Regions from separate parts of the Homo sapiens genome. Here all the other regions are linked to region 2. The links come from fine-mapping of genetic effects on gene expression. A gene starts in region 2. Each other region holds a variant in brackets. All regions are shown on one strand. Distances are from middle to middle.

Region 1 (7,929 bases), 34 kb before region 2:
GGCGCAGTGGCCCACGCCTGTAATCCCAGCACTTTGGGAGGCCGAGGCGGGTGGATCACCTGAGGTCAGGAGTTCAAGATCAGCTTGGGCAACATGGCGAAACCCCGTCTCTACTAAAAATACAAAAATTGGCTGGGCGCGGTGGCTTACGTCTGTAATCCCAGCACTTTGGGAGGTCCAGGCAGGCGGATCACCTGAGGTCGGGAGTTCCAGACCAGCCTGACCAACATGGAGAAACCCCGTCTCTACTAAAAATACAAAATTAGCCGGGCATGGTGGCGCATACCTGTAATCCCAGCTGCTCGGGAGGCTGAGGCAGGAGAATCGCTTGAACCCGGGAGGCGGAGGTCGTGGTGAGCCAAAATCGCACCATTGCACTCCAGCCTGGGCAACAAGAGTGAAACTCTGTCTCAAATTAAAAAAAAAAAAAAAAAAGAATGAAAAGAAGATAGGTAGCCCCTCTACCTCCAGAAGAGCCGAGGGTGATAACACCAGGCACCGAGCTAGCAGGAAGCCCTCCGACTCAAGAAGATGGCTGATCCTTGGCAGGAATGCATGGATTATGCAGTAACTCTAGCAAGATGAGCTGGAGAGGTAGTTTGTGATGCTCTAAAAAATGAAATGAGGCCGGGCACGACGTCTCAGGCCTGTAATCCCAGCACTTTGGGAGGCCAAGGCGGGCGGATCAGTTGAGGTCAGGAATTTGAAACCAGCCTGGCTAACATGGTGAAACCCCGTCTCTATTAAAAATAGAAAAAAATTAGCCGGGTGTGGTGGTGGGCACCTGTAATCCCAGCTACTCGAGAGGCTGAGGCAGGAGAATGGCTTGAACCTGGGAGGCGGAGGTTGCAGTGAGCCGCGATTGTGCCACGGCACTCCAGCCTGGGTGACAGAGTAAGACTGTCTCAAAAAAAAAAAAAAAAAAAACTATATATATATATGAACCCACATTCACTACTGGTGGGGATATAAGACAGTATAACCACTTCACAAAATCTGTAGAAGTTAAACATAAATTTACCATATGGCCCAGCAAGTCCAGCCTGAGATATCTACCTACAAAAAATGAAAACATCTGCCTACACAGAGATTTGAACACTAATGTTCCTAGCAGAAATACGCATAATGTTGTCTAGAAGATCACCAGGGTGGCTAAATAGTAGAAAGGAGCACTTTATTGTTGATACTTGTTTGCAAACCAGGAAGAGATGGTTTGCAGCATGCACTGAAGGTGCTCTCTTCCAAGAGAGAAAGGACAGGTTGGGTTTTATGCCTCACAGGGCCCATATTCATACATATTTAGCAGGTTTGAGGGAAAAGCTGTATACATATTTATGAGAGGAGGTGAGCTCATGTGCATTGGCTAAACAGGTTGTTCACAGCTTCTGTAAGCTGGCTGAAACTGGCTTAAGTTCTGCAGTTGCTTATCAGAAAAGAATGTTTATTGGCTGGGTGTGATGGCTCATGCCTGTAGTTCCGGCACTCTGGGAGGCTGGGGCAGGAGGATCACTTGAGCTTGGGAATTAGAGGCCAGCCTGGGCAACACAGTAAGATCCCATCTATTTTTTTTTTTTTTTTTTGAGACGGGGTCTCATTCTGTTGCCTAGGTTGGAGTGCAGTGATGCAATCTCGGCTCACTGCAGCCTCCACCTCCTGGGTTCAAGTGATTCTCCTACCTCAGCCCCCGGAATAGCTGGGACTACCAGTGCACACCACCATGCTGGGCTAATTTTTGTATTTTTTGTAGAGACAGGGTTTTGCCAGATTGCCCAGGCTGGTCTCAAACTCATGAATTCAAGCGATCCTCTCACCTCAGCCTCCCAAAGTGCTGGGATTACAGGCATGAGGCACTGTGCCCAGCCAACATACATTCTCTATTTGAAAAATTAAATTAAAAAAAGAAAAAGAATATTTGTGTCCAGACATGGTGGCTCACACCTATAATCCCAGCACTTTGGGAGGCCAAGGTGTGAGGATCATTTGAGATCAGGAGTTCGAAACCAGCCTGAGTAACATAGTGAGATCCCTCGTCTCTACAAAAAAACAAAAAATTATCCGGGCATGGTGGCGCACACTTTTAATCCCAGCTATTCGGGAGGCTAAGGTGAGAGGATCACTTGAGTCTGGGAGGTCAAGTCTGCAGTGAGCCGTGATTGCGCCACTGCACTCCAGCCAACAAAAACCTACCTCAAAAAAAAAAAAAAAGTTTGTCAGACCGGTCCCCTGTGTAATCAGAGGCATAAGGGTTTGGTTTGTAAATCAAGACTTGAGATAATTTGCCTGATGGCTCCTGATGTTAGGGAGTTTAGCGAGTATGTTGTTTTTCTTTGTAACTGAAAAAGGTTACTAATCAGTGAGTGAGATTTTTGTTGTTGTTGTTGTTGTTTTGAGAGGGAGCCTCCCTCTGTTGCCAGGCTGGAGCGCAATGGCGTGATCTCGGCTCATTGCAACCCCCACCTCCCAGGTTTAAGCAATTCTCCTGCCTCAGCCACCCTAGTATCTGGGATTACAGGTGCACGCCACCAAGCCTGGCTAATTTTTGTATTTCTAGTAGAGATGGGGTTTCACCATGTTGGCCAGGCTGGTCTTGAACTCCTGACCTCGTGATCCGCCCACCTCCCAAAAGTGTTGGGATTACAGGCGTGAGCCATCGCGTCTGGCCCCAGGGGCAGATTTTTATCCACCTTAGTCACTGCTATATCTCCAGTGCTTAGAACCATGCTTAGCACATAGTAAGTGCACAAATATTTTGCTGAATTAATGAACTTCCTCATTTGAGGAAATTAGGGAAAATAGACCATTGGATTTTGAGATTAGGGCTCATGCGTATGAAATGTCTGACATACTAAACTCTCAAAGTTCGCTGTTCTTATCTCAAGCCTAAGAGTCCCACTTAGACACAGGAAACCATCCACTTGAGGACACGGTGAACAACTTAGCTGACATCTGCGAGGAGGGCCCTGCTTCTGAGGCCACATTATGAAGCCAGATGCTCTCCGAGAGAGCTGCCTGGGCTGTCACCCCAGTGCTTGGGACACAGTGGAACATTCCTGACTACCTACTTTTTGTGATTAAATAGGGACATTGTTACCAGAGGGCTAAAACTTCCAGCCTCTCAGATTCGCCAGTGGACAGATGAGGTAGTCAGAGAAAGCACAGGAATGAGGCTGGCCTTGACTGGGAATAACTAAGCAGCATTTGCATAAGGCAAGAAGGCCCTTTTTCAAACTATGGCTCATCACCCGGGATGATGCTGTCGTGAACAATTTAGTGGGTTGTACATAACATCTTGTTAATGACAGAAACTACTTGTTTTGTGGATTGCAAAAAAAAAAAAGGTAATGATTCATTTTTTTTTTGTTACCTGAGAAAGTCTTTGGCTGCTGCCTTGAAACAGCCACAAGATGGCGAGGATAGGCGGGGACAAGGCAGGAACAGGAACCTAGATCCGGGCTGATGGTTATGATGGAGGTGAGGAAACTGGGCAGGGTCAACAGACTTGGAAGACAGCAGGTGACAGATTTGGTGCAGCACGTGTGACCGTGGACTCGAGGGTGATGCCCCAAGTGTGTAGCCTGGGAATCTGGAAGGATGAGGTTGCTATCAGCTGAGCTGTGGCCTCTGTGGGCGAGCAGGGCGGACACTGGGCAGCACCAGAGCCAAGAGGACAGCTGTAGGGGCGGGGAAACTGACTGACTACCCCTGTATCTACTCCTGAGGACCCTTAAAAAAAAAAAGAAAAAAAAGCGGTGGCTCACACCTGTAATGCCAGCACTTTGGGAGACCGAGGCAGGTGGGTCACAAGGTCAGGAGTTTGAGACCAGTATGGCCAAGATGATGAAACCCTGTCTCTACTAAAATACCAAAATTAGCCAGGCCTGGTGGTCGGCGCCTGTAATCCCAGCTGCTTGGGAGGCTGAGGCAGAGAACTGCTTGAACCCGGGAGGCGGAGCTTGCAGCGAGCCGAGATCGTGCCACTGCACTCCAGCCTGGGCGACAGAGCGTGACTCCATCTCAAAAAAGAAAAAAAAAAAAAAGAATAGTGGCAACCAAATTCTCAGAAGGCAAAGCAGGATGGAACAGTGAGTCATTTACTTTTTAAGTGAAAAAT[G/T]GTCTGGAGTTACAGAGAAATCTGTAAAGAAATCAGTCTCGATTTCCTGATCCTTAAAGATCAGTTAAACCATCTGTTCTTTTGAGAGTATCAAATTCCTTCCAAGAATAAGGAGCCAGATTATAGTGGGAACTTCCCCAAAGTTATGGTCACTTCAGAATACAGCTGGCCATGTCAAAGAGGAGTTTGTACAAGAACCCAAAAAGACAGATCTCACAAAGGATTTCCAACTAGGTTTTATTTTAGTTTCCAATATTATGAGCAATGATACAGGAGTAACTCAAGCAAATACATCACCTTAAATACATCAGAGAAAACTCACTGTGTCAGCACGTCTTGCGCTCCAGCAAATGAACATAAAAACAACAATGTCAGCAGCATTAAAGTGCTTTTGGCCATACTTCTTTCAGAAAGGGTCTCTCCCTCAGTGGTATAAATTTAATTTTACGTATTGAAGAAGCTCAAAATTTCATTCATTCCCCAGGGGCTACATTGAAAAAAAATTCATGTTTACGCTAAAGAATTTTTTTTTTTCAAAAAGAGCACAAAATCCATTGGAATTGTGTGACAGTGATTTTCCCTGACATGCTGTGAAGTGGCCCCTGTCCATTCAGGCCCGGCACACGCCGGGAACATCCACCCACAGCATGTCCACCTGGCAGAGTCCATCACTTCGCCCCACACAACAGGACAGACTGAGGGCTTTAAATACAAGCAGGTATGTGAACAGGACATCACCTGTGATGTGGCCACCAAACAGTGCACAGAGGCTACCAACTCATTTCCTCAAAGATGAGTGATGGCTGGGCTGCTGGGCCCCTGCCTTGTGGGCTGCTTTTTGGGAGAGGTGTTGCTTATTTCTAGGAAGCGATCCAACTTGTGCCACACAGGATTTGTCACCCAAACTGCTTTTCTCACACAGTCAACACCTTGGTGACAGGCATCTGCCCCCACTTCAACCAGTAACAATCCCAAAACTCAACATCAGCATAAAGACAAGGGGGTCAGTCGAAGGTTCTGGAGATCAGGGAGGGTGGAAAGATGGACACTGGGTTTTCCACATTGTCCCTTGGCCAACTGCAGTCACTGGCACAGGAAATTTAGTCCAGGGCACTTGGGACAAGGTTGGGGGTGGGGTGGAAACATGTCTCTTAAAGGGCACAACAGGGATGCAATCAAGCCTAGTGGGTGGGGGCTCTCAGACCCATGAGCCCCTCGCAGAACGAGGCCAAGTGGACGGCCCATTCTCCAGCTGTCCTGTGTGGGGCCCATGCACCTCAGCCAGCCACCAACGTCCCCACCTTCCACCATCCATCCTTCTACTACATCCTTCAACCACCTAGACCATGCCATCTTCCAAAACAGATCTACACAAAACAGGCCTGCACAAGTCCAGGACTGACACTAAAGCAAAGGACACAATAATGAGAAGAGAGGCAAGTCCCTCCTTGTCCCAGTGACTGCCACCTGCTCTGCCAGCTCCCCATACATCCAACAGCCCTCCCCTCTGAGCTACTCCCACTCCTCCAGCTGCCTCAGCAGCATCCTTTCTACCACCCCCAGCACAGGGCCCGCCTCAGCCTAAGCCCAGGGGTAACTGAGCCTCACCACCAAGACGTGTCTGAGGCTCTGCAAATGGGATGAAGCACTGAGCCAACAGGCGAGATGGACACACACAAGCCACAGTCCTTCTGGGACAGACTCTCTGGGAAGAAACTCCAATCGTCCCTTACACCTGCAGGTGTGCTGGGCTGCAAGGAGGGCAGGTGCGCACAGGCTGGAGGAAGGTGGGGGTGTCTGTGTGATACCCTCAAAGGCTTCCATGAGGCATTGTGCAATGCTGAGATCCTGAGGCCTTATCAAGCAATCAAATGAACCAGAGAAAGCTGGAAAAAGCCTCAACTTAACTCCTTGGTACCATGCTGTCCATAGCTGTCGCTGAAAGTGTCCTTTGGGGGTATGAGCCAGCTCTTCCAGCAACAGCAGGCAAAGGTGGGGGAAAATAAGTAGTGCTGGAGGGCTCAAAATGGTACGAGACTGGGTGCTTCATTCTCTTGGCAGTGGCCAGGGGGCAGGAGCCACACGTGCCCCTGGGGGAGCCCACATGGCACTTAGGGCTGGCAGCACCGCCCCTCTCCACGCAGACTCCGCCTCAGGTGCCCACTATCTGCTGGGCTGCAGGTACTGGTGTGTGAACATGTTGAGCTCACTGTCCAACCAACCGGCTTTATTCCTGCAAAGAAATGGTTCTTTTGTAACCATGATAGCTGATGATAGGCAGTATTAGGACTACCCGCCAGGCACCATCCTAAGGACGCTTGACACACACCCTTACATCATCCTCCAACAATCGTGTTTATCCCTGTCTCACAGATGGGGAAAAGGAGGCCCAGAGGGGTTAAATAACTTCCCAAGGCCACACGGCTAATAAGCCAGGGAGCTACAAGTTAGGCTTTTCTGATTCTCAAGCCCTGTGTTTCCTTCACCCAGGACCATGTGCAAGTCCCTGAGCTGTCGGGAACTCAGTTTCCCTGCTTGCCAAGCAAGGGGTTGAGGTGCTGACAGGAGACCCTTTCCAGGTTCAGCTGTGTCACTGTGGCTGACAAGCAGCAGTTCCCCCCATTCCCCCTTTCTGAGAGTCCCCAGAGGGCAAGCAGTGTGTCCCTAGGAAGCAGCTGTCCCCAGGTGGGGGTGCGGGGGGGGCACATCCGCAGTCGAGGGCAGGGAAAGCCCAGTGATCCGGTGAGGGTTGGAGCTGACACCCTCTGATCCATCTCCCCTCTGGCTCTGCCACCCTGCAGACTCTGACGTCAGGGGCGAGGGCAGGAAGTGCAGGGTCCCCGTGTGCTGATGCTATCATGGGCTAGGCAGGCCGAGGACTTCTGCAGGGTCCCCGTGTGCTGATGTTATCATGAGCTGGGCAGGCCGAGGACTTTTGCAGGGCACTTTTACATTCAGTCATGCAGCTGTGTCATGAAATCTTACTCCCATTTTACAGATGAAAATAATGAGACACAGGAGAGTTAAGAGCTTGGGCCAAACATGAGTGGCTGGAGAGAACCCAGGACTCCAGACTCCTCAGACTGATGTTCTTTCCAGCAAATTATTAATGAAAGCTCCACAGAGACCCCATGGAGATCTGAGTTCCAATCCCAGCTCTGCCAGTCCCCAGCCAAGTAACCAGCTTCTCTGTGGGTAAATGGGGGGCTATGCCCTCTTCATGGGTCCAAAGAGTGGCAGGTAAGGAGAATCAGAGTGCGGGGGCTGCTGGAGCCAAGTACACCTGGGCTCCCCTCCTAGCCTGGCCATTTTTTGAGATGCCAGACAAGTTCCCCAACATTTCTATGTAGAAAATGGAGAAATAGGGAAGACTGAGTGAAATAGCACATGTTAAGCGCTGTAGGCCCTGCGGTTCAGCACAGGGCGCTGTGAACTGCAGTCTCGCAGTACTGTGATGCCATCATGCCTTCAACTGCAAGTGCCTTGAAGGCAGCGACGCTGTGTCTTGTTGAGCCTCCAGCACCATCTGGCATCCATGAGGTACGTGGTACACATCCATTTTTTTTTTCTTTTTGAGACAGAGTTTTGCTCTTGTCGCCCAGGCTGGAGTGCAATGGCATAATCTCGGCTCACTGCAACCTCCGCCTTCTGGGTTCAAGCCATTCTCCTGCCTCAGCCTGTCGAGTGGCTGGGATTACAAGCACACACCACCACGACCAGCTAATCTTTGTATTTTTAGTAGAGACGGGGTTTCACCATGTTGGTCAGGCTAGTCTCAAACTCCTGACCTCAGGTGATCTACCTGCCTCAGCCTCCCA
Region 2 (10,324 bases):
TCCGTGTGTTCAGCTATCCACAAGCTCCCTGAACTCTGTCCTCTTGGATTTTTATGGAAGCTTCATGACATCAGCATTCCTTCCCCCAGGATACAGGGTCCACCCCTCTCAGGGGAGGGTTTTAAGGCCCACAATCAGGTGGGGAAAGATTAGGGTGGAAGGAGAGCAGAAGGTCAGAGGCCTGCCCCTGAGGCCTAACACATCTAACATTATATCAAAAAACCATAACAAGGGCTGTGGATAGGAGTTATGAGCCTGGATCCGTGGATGAAAACCAATATCCTAATACCACAATACCATCTAAACTGTGAGAAGACTAAAGTTGATGACGCAAGCAACATGCTTCACTACAGTAAGAGCTAAAGGCAGCTTTACATGTTATAAAACAATAACAACAAACTCTACCAGCAAGATCACAAGACTCTCTCCATGAACACCCAGCCTTCAGGGAGGGCAGAGGCAACTCCGCCAACTCACACCACACACACCACTCCCTTACCCGCTATCACGGAGATCAAATAAACAGGTCAGCTGGGGAAGGATCAGCGATACCCCACTCCAGAAGTGACTTGCTGCAGGAAGCAAGTTCCCTGCCATCAGAAGCAGGTGCTTTTAAGTTCTGGTCAATGTTTGCAAGCCCAGGAGATATAAAACCAAAAGCATTAGTGCTCACTAACTGCAAGACTCGACAGCGTGTACACCAGTAGAAGCTTGGGAGCTCCAGGTTACAAGGTCTGCTGGGAGTTCAGCCGGTCCAGGAGCCTCCCTGCTCTCACTAATACCCAGCCTGCAGCTGCATCCAAACCCCTGGCGTAAAACCTACTGTCAACCCCTCCAAACTCTGCCTGATTTATCTGGCTCTGCTAACTTGCAAGCTGAGATTCCACATCTGTGTTGCATGAGCTGCTTTCTGCCTGGAATCCTCCTTCCTTTTCCACCCATTTGGCATACTCCTACTGTCCTTCTAGACCCAACTCAAGTGTCACCCGCTCCATGAAGCCTCCTCTGATGCCTCATAGAGAACAAACAACATCACAGACTTCTGGTTTTTATCACATCCTGTGTTCCCCAATTATCTCAAGGCTTTGACTGCTGACTCCCTACTCCTCCAGGGTGATGCAGGGCAGCTGGGTTCCTCCTCTGCCTCTGGAAAGCCTTGATAATCTCTGCTTCACCACAGACCTTGCCACAGGCACGTGGGGACCATCCTGCAAGCATAGCCTGAGAGCCCAGCTCCAACATCAGTGACACACTAAGCGTCACACTTCAAGCTGTGACTGCCTCATAAGTGCTCTGGAGATTACTGTTTTGGATAGTTTCTGGCAGCACTTCCCAAAGCGTGGTCCACAGAACTCGACTTGCACCCAATATCCCATGTAAAGAAGGTTCAATAGTAGAATCAGTTTGTAAAACACCATATGCTAGGCCAGGCGCGGTGGCTCACGCCTGTAATCCCAGCACTCTGGGAGGCCGAGGTGGGTAGATCACAAGGTCAGGAGTTCGAGACCATCCTGGCTAACACGGTGAAACCCCATCTCTACTAAAACTACAAAAAATTAGCCAGGCATGGCAGCATGCACCTGTAGTACAGCTACTCGGGAGGCTGAGGCAGGAGGATAGTGTGAACCTGGGAGGCAGAGCTTGCAGTGAGCCAAGATCACGCCACTGCAAGATCGCGCCACTGCACTCCAGCCTGGGTGACAGAGCAAGACTCTGTCTCAAAAAAAACAAAAAACAAACAAACAAACAAAAAACACCATATGCTACCATTTTCCTCAGTGGAGCACGTGAGCACAGCAAAAGAGTTTGGGAAGGAAGCCTTGTTGTAAAGACACTAGTTTAACTGTGTTGAATTCAGCATTTCACAAATATAATCAATGAAAAAACCCTTCTGTGTAATAGCTTTTAAAATCCCGAGGATCACACTTTAGGGAAAAGCCCACTCTTTCTGGTACTCTCCTGCCCCTACCCCTAAAAAGTGCCAGGGCACAGTATTAATAAATATTAACCTAAGACCAGAAATGAACCCAGTTCTAAATGGAAACTGCTATTAGCCCTCCAAGGTGGTCAACAGCTTTGCCTCAACCTAGGCTATTCGTTGAGGAGTATTAGGTATCTTGGGTGTAGAGACAGCAGTAGCAAAATTCACTGCAAGGTGTGTTTGGATCCCAAGCACAGTCCCTGAATCCACACCACCTCCTTACCCAGTGTTATGTACAGCAACTCCTAGCAGGGAAAATAAAATGGATCCACGGATCGTCTGCTGGCACAACTGGAAAAGAGGAGAAGCTGAGAAATCGAAACAAAAAGAGTATACAGGGTAAAGGGGACAGAGCAGAGTCTTAAAAGAGCAGTGACAAGGAGCCAACCTGTGCTGGGCCGAGATGGGGAAGAGCCAGCACAGCAGAGACCAAATGAGGGAGACAGAGACTAACTCTTCAGGGAGCCCAAGAGATCCCAGCCACTTCTGAACTGTCAACTTTTAAACAGGCTCTCTAAGCAACCAGCGAAATCCTTCACGGAAGTAAAAGATACGGTAGTTTTTCAACACAAGTTAGAAAGCTGTGGCTCTATACAAAGAGGATGCCATTCAAGAGACTTGCCACCAGAGGTCCAGGAGAGCACACCCCTGTCCACTCAGCTCAAATCCAGGGTGCCAGAAGTCACAGCTACTACTTACTTTTTTGGATGGTGAGAGATCTTCACAGGGTAGGCATCATGGACATGGCTGAAGTCCAAAAGACAAAAAGATTCTGAGTTCTCTTCTGTCCTGTCTCAGGTTGAGGTTGGCTATTGATTGACTGTGTTGACTCCACCAGTCCTGACTTATTAGAAAAGAAAAGGGAGATGGATCCGGTGTCCAAAAAAAAAAAACACTGGTGTACAAAACATGTCTAATCAGGTTTCAAGCCAAACAAACTCATCCCTGAGGGAAGCTTACTCATTGAGGTATTGGGGAGTTGCGCTGGCATGTGAGGAAGTGCCCTGGGGAAAAAAACGCAGAGGTGTGGGACCAATCCTGACTGTGCACACGTATTCCGCCATGTGCGGGTTTGAGGCACCACGGAGGTCCCTGCAGGAGCCCTGGGAAAGGTACATCCAGAGAGGGGAGAAGAGGACAGAGCAAAACTAGGAACAAAACTGGGCTTGAGGACTGTGGAACAGCTGACTATTGAGGAACAGAAGAACTGACTGAAAGCCAATGTGTTCAGCTACTGTAAAGTATCTCACTTAATTCTCTATTCTGTGGGACAGAGGGCTGGAATACTTGAAGATTTGTCTAAGCTGGGATCTGAAATATTAGCTCCCTTTGACTCCAAAGCTCCTGGAGTGCAGCAGCGCGATCTCGGCTCAACCTCCGCCTCCCGGGTTCAAGCGATTCTCCTGCCTCAGCCTCCTGAGTAGATGGGATTACAGGCGTGTGCCAGCAAGCCCGGCTAGTTTTTGGTTTTAGCACAGACGGGGTTTCACCATGTTGGCCAGGCTGGTCTCCAACTCCTGACCTCAGGTGATCCGCCCGCCTCAGCCTCCCAAAGTGCTGGGATTACAGGTGTGATCCACTGCGACCGGCCTCCTTCCTTTTTTAACTACATTGAGCTGCCTTCCTCCCCCAAGCCCCAAACCTTGGGACACCAGAGGCGGATAACCAGAGCCCTTTTCTGGGTAGAAAAGAGATAACCAGAGCCCTTTTCTGGGTAGAAGAGAGAGAGATGATTGAGAATTTAAAGAGGGCAATGAAGGATTACGAGAGGGGGTAACGGGCAGTTCTGCCTTCGTGCGTCTTAACAGCTATTTATTCAACATTTTCTGTGTGCCTTCTCTGTGTGTGTCAGGCGCCACGTTAGAAATGGATAAGAAACAGTCCTGCCCTCCAGGGCCTTACAGTCCGGTGAGAAGTCATATAAGTAAACAGGGCTGAACGAGAAGGCAGTAACTGCCCAAAGTGGGGATGGCAGGGCGCTCCCGCGGTGAACGTGGACACCTATCAGGTGCTGAGTAAATGCTGGCAAAATGAAGACAGGATGAAAAATAGAGAAGGGGCAGGGGTAGAACATGGCCGTGAAGGGTGGAAAGGCGGGGGCGATGAGAAGCTACAGGGGACCCCACCGACCAGTCCCAGGTCCCGTGGCCCGCCCCCTCCTCTCAGGGCCGGGGAGGGCCCGGCGGCGAGGCCGGAGAGTGGGGACCCCGCTTGACTGCATCCCAGACCCCCGTGGCCCCAGAATCCCGTCGGCCCACGCCGAGCTGCTCAGGACTCGCCGGGCCGGGCCGGGCCAGTCCCCGCCACCCCGGCTTGCTCGCCCTCTCACCTTCACCTTCCCGGCCTCGCGGCGGCCATCACACTCACTACGTCACCAGCGAGCGCCACCCCAGGGGGAGGCGGGAGGAGGGAAGTGGATAAGCGCGTCACCAGTCGCCTCAGATTGCCCCTCGACCCGGGTGAGCTGGTGGACCCTGAGCCCAGCCGGCTCGCCCCGCCTACTCCTTACGCCTCTGCTGCCCCGCGACTCGGCGCTTCGAGCGGCGTCTCAGCGCGCCACTCCTCCGCGCGCCACTCCTCCGCCGGCGCGTCCCAAGCGGACGACGCAGAGGCTCGGACTCCCACTGCATCATGGGGGCTGTAGTTCCGGTGGGCGTCGGCCGGAGCTGGGGGGGCGGGGCAAAGCGGGGCGGAGCCTCAAGCTGTCAAGGGGCGAAAAACCAAGGGCGTGGAGTAGAGGTTCCCGCTTTTTCGCCGGTTGTCCTAGAGCCTGACCCTGGGGCCTCTGCCAGCTCTGGAATCCAGATTTGCATTCTGTAATCTTAGAGGAGTGTTCTCTAGAGGGCCAGGCCTAGGGTGAAGTGACTCATCGGGCAGACAGAAGCGAGCATGGGCCTGCTGCCCTTCAGTCGCCTTTGAGGAAAGAAGAGCAGCAACAACGGCGAATCAATGCCAGTGACTGAACTGCGTCTCTAACATCCACCGCTGTATTTAACGTCCACAGCAGTCCCAGGAGAGGGAGAGGAGAGGTTACCCAAGCTCACATGGTTACCCAGATCACCGGGCCCCAGTGATGCGGCAGACACTACTAGGAAACCGCAGCAAACAGATCCCTTGCAGGACTTGGCCTCCGCAGAGAAGGCTCCAAGCCTGAGCGCGCCAGAACAGTAGGCACTAGCCACGTGTGGCTCTCGAGTCCTGAGCCAGTGCAAACGGAGATGCGCTATAAGACTTAGGACAAAAAAGGCTGTTAAACTATCTCAATTTTTAGGAAAAAAAAATATCGACCGGGCGCGGTGGCTCAAGCCTGTAATTCCAGCATTTTAGGAGGGCGAGGCGGGTGCATCGGGAGTTCAAGACCAGCCTGGCCAACATGGTGAAACCCCGTCTGTACTAAAAATACAAAAATTAGCCAGGCATGATAGTGCACTCGGGAGGAAGAGGCAGGAGAATCGCTTGAACACGGGCGGTGGAGGTTGCAGTGAGCCGAGATCATGCCACTGCACTCCAGCCTGGGCAACAGAGACTCCGTCTCAAAAAAGAAAAAAAAAATCTATCTTTGAGCCAGAGTCTCACTCTCACTCAAGCTGGAGTGCAGTGGTGCAATCACGGCTCACTGCAGCCTCGAACTCCTGGGCTCAAGTAATCCTCCCACCTCACTCAGCCTCCCAAGTAGCTGACCACAGATGCTGCAGCCATGCCTAGTATTTATCTTTTGTAGACATGGGGAAGCATTTCACTTTGTTACCCAGGCTGGTGTCCTGAACTCCTGGACTCCTGGAGTCAAGCAATCTTCTCCTGCCTCGGCTTCCCAAAATGCCGGGTTACAGGTACCTGCCACAGTGCAGGGCTATTAGCCCATTACTATTTATATGCTGACTACATGTTGAAGTGATAATATTTTGGGTCATTTGGGTTAAATACATTACTAAGATTAATTGCACCTGTTTCTTTTTAAAAATGTCGCTACTAGAAAATTTAAAATTACATAAGTAGCTTGCATTTGTGGGTCAAACTGTAATTCTGTGGGATGGTGCTGCTCTATAACCATGGTAGAACAACCTCAATTTATTGCCACAAACAACCTCAAGAGGCAAATCAGTACTCTGATATAGAAGTGACTGGTTTATCAGTCTCATGACGATGGCCAAAGGGAGCTGTCCTGCCCACACTGCCCTCTGAGTAGCCTAGTGCCCCGCGGGTCTGACTGTGGACTGTGGGGCCACACGCAGACTCAGCCTCAGGGTGTAGACAGGGCCCTGTCTGGGATGTAGCGTGCCTTGGGGCCTCAGCTGCTAGCTGCCTGGTACTGGGTCGGATTGTTTCCTCCTCCACAATCTCTGGACTCCCTAAGGAGAGGAACTCTAAATTCCACTTCCATTCTCTGAGGGCAGGAACTATAAATTCCATTTCCTCTTTTTTTTTTTTTTTCTTTTTTTTTGAGAAAGAGTCTCGCTCTCACTCTGTTGCCCAGACTGGAGCTCAGTGGCACCATCTTGGCTCACCGCAACCTCCGCCTCAGGCAATTCTCCCGCCTCAGTCTCCCCACTAGCTGGGATTACAGGCGTGCACCACCATGCCTGGCTAATTTTTGTATTTTTAGTAGAGATGGGGTTTCACCATGTTGGCCAGGCTGGTCTCAAACTCCTGACCTCAGGTGATCCACCCGCCTCAGCCTCCCAAAGTGCTGGGATTACAGGTGTGAGCCACCACGCCCAGCCTTCCTTTTCCTTTTTAGCAGAATCTTGCCCGTCAGGTGAAAGCCTGGATGTTCTCTCTCCTAAACATCTCCCCTGCCCACTCCCTCCTCTTCCCTAAATTTCCCTGCAAGCATTGGTCTAGGTCCTGGTCACTTGCCTGGACTGCTGTAGGAACCTCTGAATCCATTCCCAGGCATTTAGTCTTGTACTCTGCCCAGCAGCTGGGCTTTATCTCTGAAACACATCTGCATACTTGCCCAGCAAGTAGAGGAAATCTCAGTTTGGAGATATGTTTCAACCCATTAACATGTGTTTCTCATTGAGATGGCTGAATCCTCGTTTCAACCCTCGGGATGACAAAACTCTCCTAGCAGTGCTGAGTGTTATTGGGAATGGGTGCAGAGCACACTGATGTACAACTCCAGGAGACCTTTCTTTCTTACGTTTTTGTTTTTTTTTTTAAGACAAGAGTCTTGCTCTCTCACCCAGGCTGGAGTGCAGTGGCACAATCTCAACTCACTACAACCTCTGCCTCCCGGGTTCAAGCGATTCTCGTGCTGCAGCCTCCTGAGTAGTTGGGTTTACAGGCATGTGCCATAAAGCCCACCTTATTTTTGTATTTTTAATAGAGACAGGGTTTTGCCATGTTGGCCATGCTGGTTGAGAATTCCTGGCCTCAAGTGATCCTACCACCTCAGCCTCCCAAAGCGCTGGGATTACAGGCATGAGCCACTGCACCCGGTCCATATTACTTTTTGTTGTTGTTGTTGTTGACAGGTTATTGCTCTGTCACCCACGCTGGAGTGTAGTGGTGCAATCTTGGCTCACTGCAACCTCCACCTCCCAGGTTCAAGTGATTCTCCCAGCTCAGCCTCCCAAGTAGCTGGGATTACAGGCACCTGCCACCACACCTGGCTAATTTTTGTATTTTTTTGTAGAGATGGGGGTTTTGCCATGTTGGCCAGGCTGGTCTCAAACTCTTGACCACAAGTGATCCACCCGCCTCAGCCTCCCAAAGTACTGGGATTACAGATGTGAGCCACAGCATCCGGCCCCCCATGTTACCTATTTTGTTTGACTTTTTCATGGTGAAGATGAGTTTGTAATCAGAAAAAAGTTAACAGTTAAAAACAACCCTATGCCGGGCACAGTGGCTCACACCTGTAATGCCAGCACTTTGGGAGGCCGAGGCAGGTGGATCATCTGAGGTCAGGAGTTGGAGACCACCGTGGCCAACATGGTGAAACCTCATATCTACTAAAAATACAAAAACTAGCTGGGCGTGGTGGCGGGTGCCTGTAATCCCAGCTACTCGGGAAGCTGAGGCACGAGAATTGCTTGAACCCGGGAGGCAGAGGTTGCAGTGAGCCGAGATCATGCCATTGCACTCCAGCCTGGGCGACAGAGTGAGACTCCATCTCAAAAACAAAAACAAAAATAACCCTAACATACACAAACACACACACAGGCTTGTGTCGGCACAAACCAGCTCAAGAACGTTCAAAAAACAGATTAGACATGGTGGCTTTCAGAGAGAGGAACTGAGCAGCTGGGGGGAAAGGATGACAGAAAGATTAAGATTTGTGCTGTTTGAATTTACAATGAGTCAATTTTGAAAATGAAAAGACTAAAAAATCTTTTTTTTTTTTTAATTGAGATGGAGTCTTGCTCTGTCACCCAGACTGGAGTGCAGTGGCCCAATCTTGGCTCATTGCAACCTCCACCACCTGGGTTCAAGCGATTCTCCTGCCTCAGCCTCCCGAGTAGCTGGGATTACAGGCGCATGCCAACACAACCGGCTGATTTTTTCATATTATTAGTAGAGACAGGGTTTCGCCACGTTGCCCAGGCTGGTCTCAAACTCCTGACCTCAGGTAATCCGCCTGCCTCAGCCTAAGTGCTGGGATTACAGGTGTGAGCCACTGTGCCTGGCCTCAAAAATCTTTTTTAAAAGACTTTCAGGCCTGGGATGGTGGCTCACGCCTGTAATCCAGTACTTTGGGAGGCCGAGGCGGATGGATCACCTGAGGTCAGGAGTTCGAGACCAGCCTGGCCAACACGGTGAAATGAAACCCCGTTTCTACAAAAAATACAAAAATGTGTCAGGCATGGATACCTATAATCCCAGCTACTCAGGGGTCGAGAGGCTAGCATGACCTTTCTTAAAGGCTCTAAAAAGAGGGCTCTTGGCCGGGCACGGTGGCTCATGCCTGTAATCCCAGCACTTTGGGAGGCCGAGGTGGGTGGATCATCTGAGGTCAGGAGTTCAAGACCAGCCAGACCAACCTGGTGAAACCCTTTCTTTAATAAAAAAACAAAAATTAGCCAGGCGTGGTGATGGGTGCCTGTAGCCCCAGCTGCTCGGAAGGCTGAGGCAGGAGAATTACTTGAACCCAGGAGGCGGGGGTTGCAGAAAGCGGGGATAGCGTCATTGCACTCCAGCCTGGAAGACAGAGTGAGACTCTGTCTCAAAAAAAGAAAAAAAAAAAAAAAGAGGGCTCTTAAAACCTCTCTCCCTGCAGACACTCACACCAAGACACACACACACCCACTCGCCCTGAGCATCTTCCCTTCAGTGGTTTAAATGACCTTTAATAGAAACTCTCCAGTTTCTGACGGTCTGTCCCTCTCTTCAGAGGCATCCAGGACAGGGTGACCCAGTGTGGTGTGTGGACCTGTCACTCCCCTCCCCACAGGCAAGTAGAAGATCGAGCTGTGCACAGATGCCTCTTCTGTCTCCCAAGAGGTTCTCTGGAGTCGCTGTCTCCAGGGGACTACGGTTTGCTCTCATGACCAGCCATGGAGGCAGAAGTCCCAGACTCAGGGCAGCCCTTGGAGTCTGATCCAGGTGTCTTTACCCCAAAACTTGAAGCAGAAGTCCCTGGTGCAACACCTGTGCCTGGGAGAAGCTCTGGCCATGGCTTCTCACCCAGACAGTCTTTCTGGGCAACTTGGGGAAGCCCCTGTTCTGCTCAAGTCTCACCCCATGGAAGAGGTGGGGGAAGGGGGCCTTGGTTTTTCAGGAAGACAGGTTGGAGAGCACGAGTCACTACAAAGCAGTAAAAGTGAATGGTGTCTCCAGGGGCTGGGTCCAGAACACCACGGAGAGCCCCAGCCATAAAGGTGTGTTCCGCCTCTGGCCTGCAGGAATCTCTTTGAATCTCTTTGATTGGTGGCTCCAAGAGCAATGGGAAGTCAACAGCCAGGAGGCTGGACTGGGTTCCCTGGGACCCCGAGGTCCCAGAGGCTGCTGGGCAGTGGTTGTCGGCAAAGAAGAAAGGTCCAAGAGGGTCAGGCCTGGCCAATTAGGGATCGACGAAGGAGACTGCGATGTAGCGGGTGCCCCTGGTGGTGGGGAGCCCCTCATGGTAATGCGTGAGTCGTCCAGGGTGCATGAGGGTCCAGCCCTTCCTTGGGGCTCGGATGGAACAGTTGTAGCGCAGGAACCGACAGCCCCCGCCCTGGGAGACAGAAAGCATCAGTGGCCTTTCCCCACCGCCCCCCTGCCCGTCTGTTCTCCCGTCATGATCTCCTGTCATGGCCAAGTGGCCCTCAGCACTGCCTGCCTGGGGATGCCTTCTGGAGTGACAGCCACAAGCGCTGCTAAGGAAGACACTAAATGAAGAGTAGTGGCCAGGAGTGG
Region 3 (10,324 bases), 43 kb after region 2:
CCCGGGTGACAGAGTGAAACTCTGTCTCAAAAAAAAAAGCAGCAACATGGAAGGTACTTTTGTACTTTTGTGGTGCCACTGCACTCTAGCCTGGGTGACAGAGCAAGTCTCCCTCTCAAAAACAAAAAACAAAAAACAAAACAAACAAACAAAGTACTTTTAGGAACAGCTACCACCACTGAACCCGGTGAGATACCGTGTGCTGTATGAGGCATGTTACATTCATTATCTTATTTCACGGTCAACACTCTACGAGGAAGGTGATATTTTTATCACTGCTTCTTCGGGTGAGGAAACCGAGGCACAGAGAGGCTAAATACCTGACCCAAAGTCACAGAACCTTTAGGTGAAATGGGAATGAGTTGGAATTCTAAATGCCCATGCTCTTGTCTTCATTTCCCTGTCCAAGAGCCCAACATCCTAAGATGCCAGACTCCTGGCTGCAGACAAAAGCCAGCGCTTCCAGTGCCTTCTCTCTGGCCTCTGCAGCACAAGCACCCAACTGCAGTCACGTGGTGAGGTCTTTTCCCAGCTCACTGTTAGGCCAGGCCAGAGAAACCCTTAAGGCATGGATGTGGAAGATTCATTTTCGAGTACCAAGGCCCCTCCCATCTGCTTTCTGTCTGGTCCAGCCAGCTGCCTTGGGCTAAGGCCAAGGCCTGGCACCCAGAGCTCTCAGCCCTCCCCACCTACTGCCCAAAGTCCAGCAATGACTTCCCCAGATGAACCCGTGATCCAGGATCAGCAGAAATCAATGAGATACAACAGAGAGGGTGCTAAAGACAGATTGCTGGGCAGGGAATTTAGCCTCTCCGTGCCTCAGTTTTCTCATCTGTAAAATGGGAATAATACAGATGATAGTACCTCCCTCCAGAGACTTTCATGAGGATTCAATGAGCCAATGCCGTAAAGCGCTTGGCACAGTGCCTGCCTTGGTAGCTGCGGGGGGGTTCTGGCGACAGGGTGCCTCCCCTAAAGGGGAGCTGTGTCTTGGTAGATGCTGCCCTGGGGGTCAGGAATAAAGGGGAGCTGCCTTCCTGAGAGCAAGAATGATGCAGAGGGTGGGGTGGCTCACACCTGTAATGTCAACACTTAGGGAGACCAAGGCAGGAGGCTTATTTGAGGCCCTGAGTTCAAGACCAACCTGTGCAACAAAGTGAGACCCTGTCTCTACAAAAAATTAAAAAATTAGCCAGACATGGTGGCACGCACCTCTAGGCCCAGCTACTCAGGAAGCTGAGGCAGGAGGATTGCTTGAGCCCAGGAGGTGAAGGCTGCAGTGAGCTATAGTCATGCTACTGGGCCACAGGAATTAGCCAGGTGCAGTGGCTCACACCTGTAATCCCGGTCTTTGGGGGGCCAAGGTGGGGATGATCACTTGAGCCTGAGGGTTCAAGACCAGCCGGGGCAACACAGTGAGACCCTGTCTGTACAAAAAAATAAAATTTAGAAAAACTTTTAAGAGAAGAATGATGTGTGCGGTGGCTCACACCTGTAATCCTAGCACTTTGGGAGGCCAAGGCGGGTGGATCACATGAGGTCAGGAGCTCGAGACCAGCCTGGCCAACATGGCGAAACCCCATCTCTACTAAAAATACAAAAATTAGCTGGGCATGATGGTGGGCGCCTGTAATCCCAGCTACTCGGGAGACTGAGGCAGGAGAACTGCTTGAACCCAGGGGGCAGAGGTTGCAGTGAGCTGAGATCATGCCATTTCACTCCAGACTAGGTGAGCGAGACTCCATCTCAAAAAAAGAAAAAGAAAAAGAATGATGTGGAGAGACTGACGGTGAGGGCTTGGTTGGGGTGTGCGTATGTGATGAGCTCCTGGAAGAATGGGACCTCTGGGCACCCCTGGTTTGACTGTGCCACCGGATGCCCCCTCCTCCCCAAGCAGTCCCAGCCCAAGGCGTGGGTGGTCACTGTGTGGCCTGAGTCAAGGCACAGTCATGACACACCCAGTCTGCTCCCTGGGGAGGCGGGAATGAATGAAGCCCTTCCGCCCTCTCCCCTCCCCCATCCTTCATCCCCACCCCAGGCTTGAACTGAAGCCAGGAACAGGGTCTGGCAGGAGCTTGGGATGCCCTGCACGTGGGAGCCAACCTTAGCCTCCCCGGGGCCAGCTGCCCACTTAGGTCTCCCCAGACCCGGCCCCACCCCCACACCATCCAGTGCAGCCTGACTGACTCCTGGGACCCTTCTGTTCTCTAGTAGGGAACAGCATGACCTGAACGGCCAGCTGAGCCTCTGATCTCTGCAGCTGTCCTTCTCTCACCACGGCCAAATCAAGGCCCACAGGGAAAGGCAGGAGCTGGAGATCTGCTAGAAGTTTCTACAAACGGGAGGAAGGGCTGTGGGACATCTGACCTCGGCTCTAGGGATATCTGCCTGTTTGGATGTTGCCTTTTATTCTCCCAGTTCCCTGTGATGGAAGATATTGCTTTGTTGAAGCCTTCTTGTGTCTCCCATCTTGTTCTGGAAGCCCCCCCAGGATGGCGCAACATCTCTTCCCTCAGACGTGGGGTGTCTACTGAAGTGAGGTGCTCTGTACCCCCCTCTCATTGGGAGCCCCCAAAAGTGAAAACGGTCCATGTTTCTCTCCATGCACCAAGGCCATGCGTTTTGGGTGAGGGGACAGACAAGCTGCTGACAGCACCCCACCCATCTCACTCCCCGAGACTCCACAGCAAATCCCCTTCCCTACTCCAGCTGAATCCACCTCAGTAGCTGCCTCCTCCCATCCATCTGCCAGGGAAAGGGAAGAGCTGGCCTCTTTGGGGGCTGCTGGGGTACCCCCCACCAAACACACACACTAGTCAGTGGGATGCTCAGGCAAGACCTGCAGGGAAGATGAGCAACCCACTCTGTCCTCCTGTCCAGCTGGCTAAAGGTCACACCTCAGCTGGGTCTGGGGGAGCTGAGCAGGCTCCCCCAGGCAGCATTTCCAGGCAACAGCACCCCCTTCCCGTCCAGAGGTGCAGAAATGAACAGTAGGTCTGAGTTCCAGACAATGACCCCACCTCCAACCAGCTCTGGCAATGAGAGACCAGATGTTTAACCTACCAGGACCTCAGTCTTCCCATCTCCAAAATGGAGTTGATGATTTCTTACTTAGCAAAGGGATCCTGGCCGGGCGTGGTGGCTCAGGCCTGTAATCCCAGCACTTTGGGAAGCCAAGGTGGGCAAATCGCTTGAGGTCAGGATTGAGACCAGCCTGGCTAACATTGCAAAACCCCGTCTCTACTAAAAATACAAAAATTAGCCAGGCATGGTGGTGCATGCCTGTGATCCCAGCTACTTGGGAGGCTGAGACAGGAGAATCGCTTGAACCCTGGAGGTGGAGGCTGCAGTGCGCTGAGATCGTGCCACTGCACTCCAGCCTGGGCGACAAAGCGAGACTCTGTCTCAAAGAAAAAAAAAAAAAGAAAATGAAAACTTAAAAAAAAAAAAAAAAATGGAAAACAGGGAGGGATCCAAATGGAGAAGGGAAGCAAAGGGCCCAACTCAGACTGGCCTGACATTAGCCCCAGGCCTGGGGATCTGCTCTCTTGTGCATCAGTGAGCACAGATGTGCTTTCTACCTACCAGGTGCTCTACCTGGGTTACCTCAGTAGCACACTGATCCTGTCCTCCGCCCATAGCAGCACCCTCTGTGAAGGCTTCCTTGGATCTGCTCTGCCCTCCTCCTGTCACTTGCTGGGGATCAGGGTGCCTAACGCCCTGTCATCAGTCTGGTCCCTCTTCAATTCAACTCACCGGGCTTCATCATGGGCAGCTGCGGTTTCTCTCCTGGGATGGTCTGGGATGCAGGCACCCCATGTCAGCAGAAGCAGGGGGATCAAAGGCCCAGAAAACTAGGCCACAACAGGGCTCCTGGCCAGTGAGGGGACCCAGGCCGAGAGCCCTTTGCACAGCCCGGTGGTCAGCGTTTCCATCACTGGACTTTCTGAGCTGTCTTACTGCCCTGCTGTAAGCCAGCAGCCCTGGGACTGGGAGAGAAAATGCCCTTTGCCGAGGGCCTTTCATGGGCCAGGCATTGAGCTGAACTCTCCCCAACTTCATCCCCTGGAATTCTTGTTAGAGCTCCAGGCGTGAGGTAGTATCACCGGGTCTTGCAGGCTAGAACACCAAGCCTCACAGAGAGCAAGCACCGCCGGCTTTACCACTGGGAGACGTGGGGCCTTGGGCACAACCTGGTCCGAGGGAGGTACTCAAGAAATGGCAGTTCCTGGCCGGGCGCGGTGGCTCACGCCTGTAATCCCGGTACTTTGGGAGGCCGAGGTAGGCGGATCACCTGAGATCAAGAGTTTGAAACCAGCCTGACCAACATGGTGAAACCCCGTCTCTACTAAAAATACAAACATTAGCTGAGCGTTGTGGCATCCGCCTGTAATCCCAGCCACTAGGGAGATTGAGGCAGGAGAATCGCTTGAACCTGGGAGGCGGAGGTTGCAGTGAGCTGAGATCGCACCATTGGACTCCAGCCTGGGCAACGGGAGTGAAACTCTGCCTCAAAAAAAAAAAAA[G/AAG]AAAGAAAAGAAAAGAAATGGTGGTTCCTGGCTGGGTGCAGTGGCTCCCACCTGTAATCCCAGCACTTTGGGAGGCCGAGGCAGGAGGATCACTTGAGGTCAGGAGTTTGAAACCAGCCTGGCCAACATGGCGAAACCTCGTCTCTTCTAAAGATACAAAAATTAGCTGGGCGTGGTGGTGCAGGCCTGTAATCCCAGCTACTTGGGAGGCTGACGCACGAGAATTGCTTGAACCCAGGAGACAGAGGTTGCAGTGAGCCAAGGTCATGCTACTGCACTCCAGCCTGGGGGACACAGTGAAACACTGTCTCAAAAAAAAATTAAATAAATAAAATAAAATAAATGGTGGTTCCCATTCCTGACCCAAAGAACCCGGGATCCTTCTGGTGATACAGTTTCAGGTTCTCCAGGAGGGTAAGCTGAAGGAGGAGAATGCCATGGAAAGTACCGCCACTTCTGCTTGGCTTTGCTGGGACTGTCCGCAGTCTATGCCCTTCTCGGGACAGCCCTGGAGATGGCCCATGCCAGGGAGGGCTGGGGAGGAGGGAAGCACCCACTCAGGACAGTGGGGCACACACTGCAATCCAATCTGCCTTGAGGAAGTAGAAAGAGCGCTAGACTGGAGCCCAGCTGACCTCGGACCAACCACCTCTGTCTGGACCACCCTGGACAGTCACTTCACCTGTCTGGGCCTCAGTTTCCTCAAGTATAAACTGCAGAGAGGGCCAGGTGTGGTGGCTCACGCCTGTAATCCCAACACTTTGGGAGACCAAGGTGGGCTGATCACCTGAGGTCAAGAGTTCAAGACCAGCCTGGCCAACATGGTGAAACCCCATCTCCACCAAAAATACAAAAATTAGCTGGGCATGGTGGCACATGTCTGTGATCCCACCTACCTGGGAGGCTGAGGTACAGGAGTCGCTTGAACCGGCCGGGCGCGATGGCTCACGCCTGTAATCCAAACATTTTGGGAGGCTGAGGCCAGCGGATCAAGAGGTCAGAAGTTCAAGACCAGCCTGGCCAGCATGGTGAAACCCCATCTCAACTAAAAATACAAAAATTAGCTAGGCATGGTGGCACGTGCCTGTAATCCCAGCTACTTGGGAGGCCGAGGCAGGAGAAACACTTGAACCTGGGAGGTGGAGGTTGCAGTGAGCTGAGATTGTGCCACTGCATTCCAGCCTGGGCGACAGAGCGAGACTCCATCTCAAAAAAAAAAAAAAGAATTGCTTTTACCTGGGAGGCAGAGGTTGCAGTAAGCCGAGATCGCATACTGCGTTCCAGCCTGGGCGACAGAGCAAGACTCTGTCTCAAAAATAAATAAATAACTAAATAAATAATACATTAAGTAAAATAAAAAAAATAAACTGCAGAGAGGAAGACCACCCTGGCAGGGGCTAAGCAGACCACAGGGGACATGGATGAAAGCACAAACTTATCCACAAAGTGAGCCACACCTTCTACCCCCATTCCTCCCCTGTCCCCCTCAAGACCCCTCATTCCCATGGTCATGAGGCCTCCTGGCTCTGGAACCAGACACCTGGGTGGGTGGGGTAAATCCTGGTTCCAAGGCCCACAAGTTGTATGATCTTGGGCAAGTGAATGAACTCTGGAGCCTCAGTTTGCCCAGCTGGAAAACGGGGATAATAGAAGGAAACACTTACCAGGGTAGCAATCATGCCTAACTGATGCCTGGCCCATAGTGAGCACTGGGCAGAATAGCCATTGTCGGTTATTATTATGAAAACTATTATTATTTGAGCCTTTCTGTGCTGAATGGGACTCAGCTGTCACCCTTTCCTTCCCGAAGCAGGAACCGCAGCCCCAAGAGGGGAAGTGATTTGTTCAAGTCACCAGCGATTAAGTGGACAAGGAGCCGGAACCCAGACTCCCTCTCCAGCCCAGGCCTCCCATTCAGGTCGTTCCCAGGGAGGCAGCCCGACACCAGCCCTCCCGCCCGGATCCGCGCTCCCGCCCCCGGCCTTCGCTCCCTCACCCTCCGGCTTGGCGTCGCCCTTCGCTTCGGCCAGCAGCAGCCAGCCCAGCAGGGCCAGTAGCAGCAGGGGCCGCATGGCCGAGGTATGGGGGACGATCGGCCGACCCGGCGGCGCTCGCAGGGCTGGAAACTTCGCGACGGGGCCGCAGGTCCCGCTGCCACGCACTGGGCCCGCCCCGGGGGCGGCACCACCCCGCCCCTCCACGCCCTCCCCCGCGCCTGCCTAGTGGGGAAGGGTTTTTCTGCAGATATGCCCAAGTCCGGGCCTCTCCTTATTAGGGCAGCTCCCTCCGCCTCTCTGTGCAGCTCCCGGGGCTTCCGTCAGGCCCTGCCGTCTCCCTCCCTTCTCTGGGGGGTTCACTCCGACCAGAAAGAGGGCGGTGAGAGGAGAGAGAGGCCACGATTTCTAGACCCCAGGTTCTGGGCCAAGGCTCCATGGCATCGATAGCCACGAGCCCCTGTTTGCTCGCCTGAAAAGTGGGGCTTATGATAGCGTCTGTTCATTGGGTCTTGCACGGGTTAATGGCGTTACCTGTAGCGCACTTAGAGCAGCCCCAGGTCAAGCCCCAAGGAAGTCAGTTTTCATGATTTCATTAGTCCTTCCCAAAACCCAAGGGGTGAGGGTGGGCACGGATGCGTTCAGAGACACGGACACCCCTACGTGGCCCACCCAGGCACTGGAAATGCAGGAAGCCCGTCTCCACTCTCCCCAAAAGGCAATCACTTGATCTCCCTTTGTGTCCCTGGGAGGCAAACCTCTGAGCCAAGGAAAGTCTTGCTTCTGAGGTTTTTTTGTTTTTTGTTTTTTTTTTTTCATTTTTTTGAGACAAGGTTGCTTTCAGTTGCCCAGGCTGGAGTGCAGTGGCGTGATCACCGCTTGCTGCAGCCTCGACCTCCCGGGCTCAAGCGATCCTCCCATCTCAGCCTCCCAAGTAGGTGGGATCACAGGCCTGAGCCACCATCCCTGGCTAATTTTTCTACCTTTTTTTTGAGACAGAGTTTCACTCTTGTTGCCCAGGCTGGAGTGCAACGGCGAGATCTGGGGTCACGGCAACCTCCGCCTCCCGGGTTCAAGCAATTCTCCTGCCTCAGCCTCCCGAGTAGCTGGGATTACAGGCATGTGCCACCATGCCCAGCTAATTTTGTATTTTTAGTAGAGGTGGGGTTTCTCCATGTTGGTCAGGCTGGTCTTGAACTCCCACCCTCAGATGATCCACCCGCCTTGGCCTCCCAAAGTGCTGGGATTACAGGCTGAGCCACCACACCCTAGAGAGATTAATTGTTAAATGAGTAAACGAATCGATGAAAGTTTTTAGGGCCTCTTCACAGATACCCAAAGCCCAACAAACAACTCAACGGTCTCTAGAGTAAGGGCTCCTGGACCAGATGTCAGACAGGGGCAGCCACCTCTGAACAAAAATCCTTCCTTCCTTGGAAGAAACCTCAGACAGAGGCCGGGCACGGTGGCTCACACCTGTAATCCCAGCACTTTGGGAGGCTGAGGCGAGCGGATCACAAGGTCAGGAGTTCAAGACCAGCTTGACCAACATGGTGAAACTCTGTCTCTACTAAAATACAAAAATTAGCCAGGCGTGGTGGCGCGCGCCTGTAATCCCAGCTACTCAGGAGGCTGAGGCAGTAGAATCACTTGAACCCAGGAGACTGAGTTTGCAGTGAGCCAAGATTGAACCACTGCACTCCAGCCTAGGCGACAGAGCGAAACTCTGTCTCAAAAAAAAAAAAAAAGAAAAAAAAGACCTTAGACAGGGACCCAGGAGCCTTCTCCCAGCTGATTAGGCTCCAGAGGAGTGGGTGGCAGGTGTAACCCTAGGCTGGCAGGGGGTTCCCTGCAGGGGGCAAAGGGGTGGGAGAGAAGGAATGTCACGAATGTCAATGGACGACAAAGAGCAGGCTATGCGTCTGTGCTGGGAAAAGATATTAATAAATCAACAGCATTCAGATGAGCTGGGTGCGGTGGTTCATGCCTGTAATCCCAGTACTTTGGGAGGCCAAGACAGCCAGATTGCTTGAGCCCAGGAATTCAAGACCAGCCTGGGCAACATGGTGAAACCCCTTCTTTACTAAAAAAACAAAAATTAGCTGGGCATGGTGGCATGTGCCTGTAGTCCCAGCTATTCAGGAGGCTGACTGGGGAGGATCACTTGAGCCCGGGAGGTGGAGGTTGCAGTGAGCCATGATCACACCGCTGCACTCCAGCCTGGGCAAGAGAGTCAGAACCTGCCTCAAAAAAAACAAACAAACCAAAAAATAAAAATAAAAACAAAATAGCATTCAGATGCTGCAGCCAGAGAAATACACTACCCATATGATGTTAAGTGGAAAAGCAGAATATATAGTATGGTTCCACTCAGTAAAAATACCTTCTTTTTTTTTTTTTTTGAGATGGAGTCTCACTGTATAGCCCAGGTTGGAGTGCAGTGGCACAATCTCAGCTCACTGCAACCTCCGCCTCCCTGGTTCAAGCAATTCTTTGCCTCAGCCTTCCGAGTAGCTGGGATTACAGGTGCCTGCCACCATGCCTGGCTCATTTTTGTATTTTTAGTAGAGATGAGGTTTCACCATCTTGGCCAGGCTGGTCTTGAACTCCTGACCTCGTGATCCACCAGCCTCGGCCTCCCAAAGTGTTGGGATTATAGGCGTGAGCCATCGCGCCCAGCCAAAAATATATTCTTATCGATGTATACATGCATAGAGACAATGCTAGGAGAAAATTATGGCCAAATATTTACTGTGATTATTTCCAGGTTGTGGGATTATTTCATATTTATATAGACAATTTTTGATGTTTTATATTATTTCCAAGTATTTATTTTGTTATTTATATTTTTCTTTTTTTTTCAATAAATATATACTATTTGTAAAATTCAAACAAAATCGGCGGGGCATGGTGGCTTATGCCTGTAATACCAGCCCTTTGGGAGGTGGAGGCAGGCAGATCACCAGACGTCGGGATTTCAAGACCAGCCTGACCAACATGGAGAAACCCTGTCTCTACCAAAAATACAAAATTATCTGGGCATGGTGGCGCATTCCTGTAATCCCAGCTACTTGGGAGGCTGAGGCAGGAGAATTTCTTGAGCCTGGAAGGCGGAGATTGCAGTGAGCCGAGATCGCACCATTGCACTCTAGCCTGGGCAACAAGAGCAAAACTCCGTCTTGAAAAAATATATATATATATTCAAACAAAATCAATACATGCTATTTTTAGAATATAGGTCCAGGCCGGCACAGAGACTCATGCCTGTAATCCCAGCACTTCGGGAGGCCAAGGCAGGAGGACTGCTTGGGCCCAGGAGTTCCAGACCAGCCTGGACACTATAGCAAAACCCTTCCCCCATCTCTATTAAAAAAACAAAGATAGAGTCAGTCACTGGGAACCTTGGAAATCATCTCATTGTGTGGAAATCATCTCATTGTATGGAGATGTGCTCATTGCACAGATAGCACAAGTGATATCCATAGGCATGGGGCAGCAAGCTCAAGGTCCCAAGGCAAGTAAAAGGAAGAGGCCTGAGCAGAATCCAGGGCCCCTACCTCCCAGCTGGGATCCAGGGCTGGGAGTTTCAGCATCTGGAGACAGGACTTGGTGCCAGAATCCACCGGATGTTTTGGATTCAGGAGGATGCAGACTCAGACTCCAGACCCCTGGAGGAAGAGGAAATGCCAGGAGGAGCAGAGGGAGGAGAATGAGCATTTGTTGGCTGGTTCCATGTTCTCTTTTTTTTTGAGACAGGGTCTCACTTTGCTGCCCAGGCTGGAGTGCAGTGGTGTGATTACAGCC

Evidence for each region. PIP is the estimated chance that this variant, and not a neighbour inherited with it, causes the effect.
Region 1: its variant is fine-mapped to the expression of MFN2 in whole blood (INTERVAL, PIP above 0.99).
Region 3: its variant is fine-mapped to the expression of MFN2 in whole blood (INTERVAL, PIP 0.96).

Annotation. Positions count from the first base shown.
Region 1 is chr1:12,009,911-12,017,839 of GRCh38, reverse strand. It overlaps MFN2 (mitofusin 2), which reads right to left. Exons shown (of 19, transcript NM_014874.4): 19 at 4,332-6,344. The coding sequence ends at 6,275. Among named protein-coding and RNA genes, the nearest start is that of MIIP, 5.6 kb to the left of the region's middle. The variant G/T (reference allele first, on the strand shown) is at 4,112.
Region 2 is chr1:11,974,471-11,984,794 of GRCh38, reverse strand. MFN2 (mitofusin 2) reads right to left here and starts at 4,351. Exons shown (of 19, transcript NM_014874.4): 1 at 4,311-4,351; 2 at 2,681-2,825. It overlaps PLOD1 (procollagen-lysine,2-oxoglutarate 5-dioxygenase 1), which reads right to left. Exons shown (of 19, transcript NM_000302.4): 19 at 9,258-10,142. The coding sequence ends at 9,987. RefSeq lists an enhancer at 2,510-2,609 and silencers at 4,066-4,305, 4,476-4,735.
Region 3 is chr1:11,931,054-11,941,377 of GRCh38, reverse strand. It overlaps PLOD1 (procollagen-lysine,2-oxoglutarate 5-dioxygenase 1), which reads right to left and starts at 6,661. Exons shown (of 19, transcript NM_000302.4): 1 at 6,523-6,661. The coding sequence starts at 6,598. RefSeq lists enhancers at 1,556-2,448, 1,411-2,610, 6,029-6,952, 7,073-7,122, 6,953-7,878 and a silencer at 6,383-6,852. The variant G/AAG (reference allele first, on the strand shown) is at 4,527.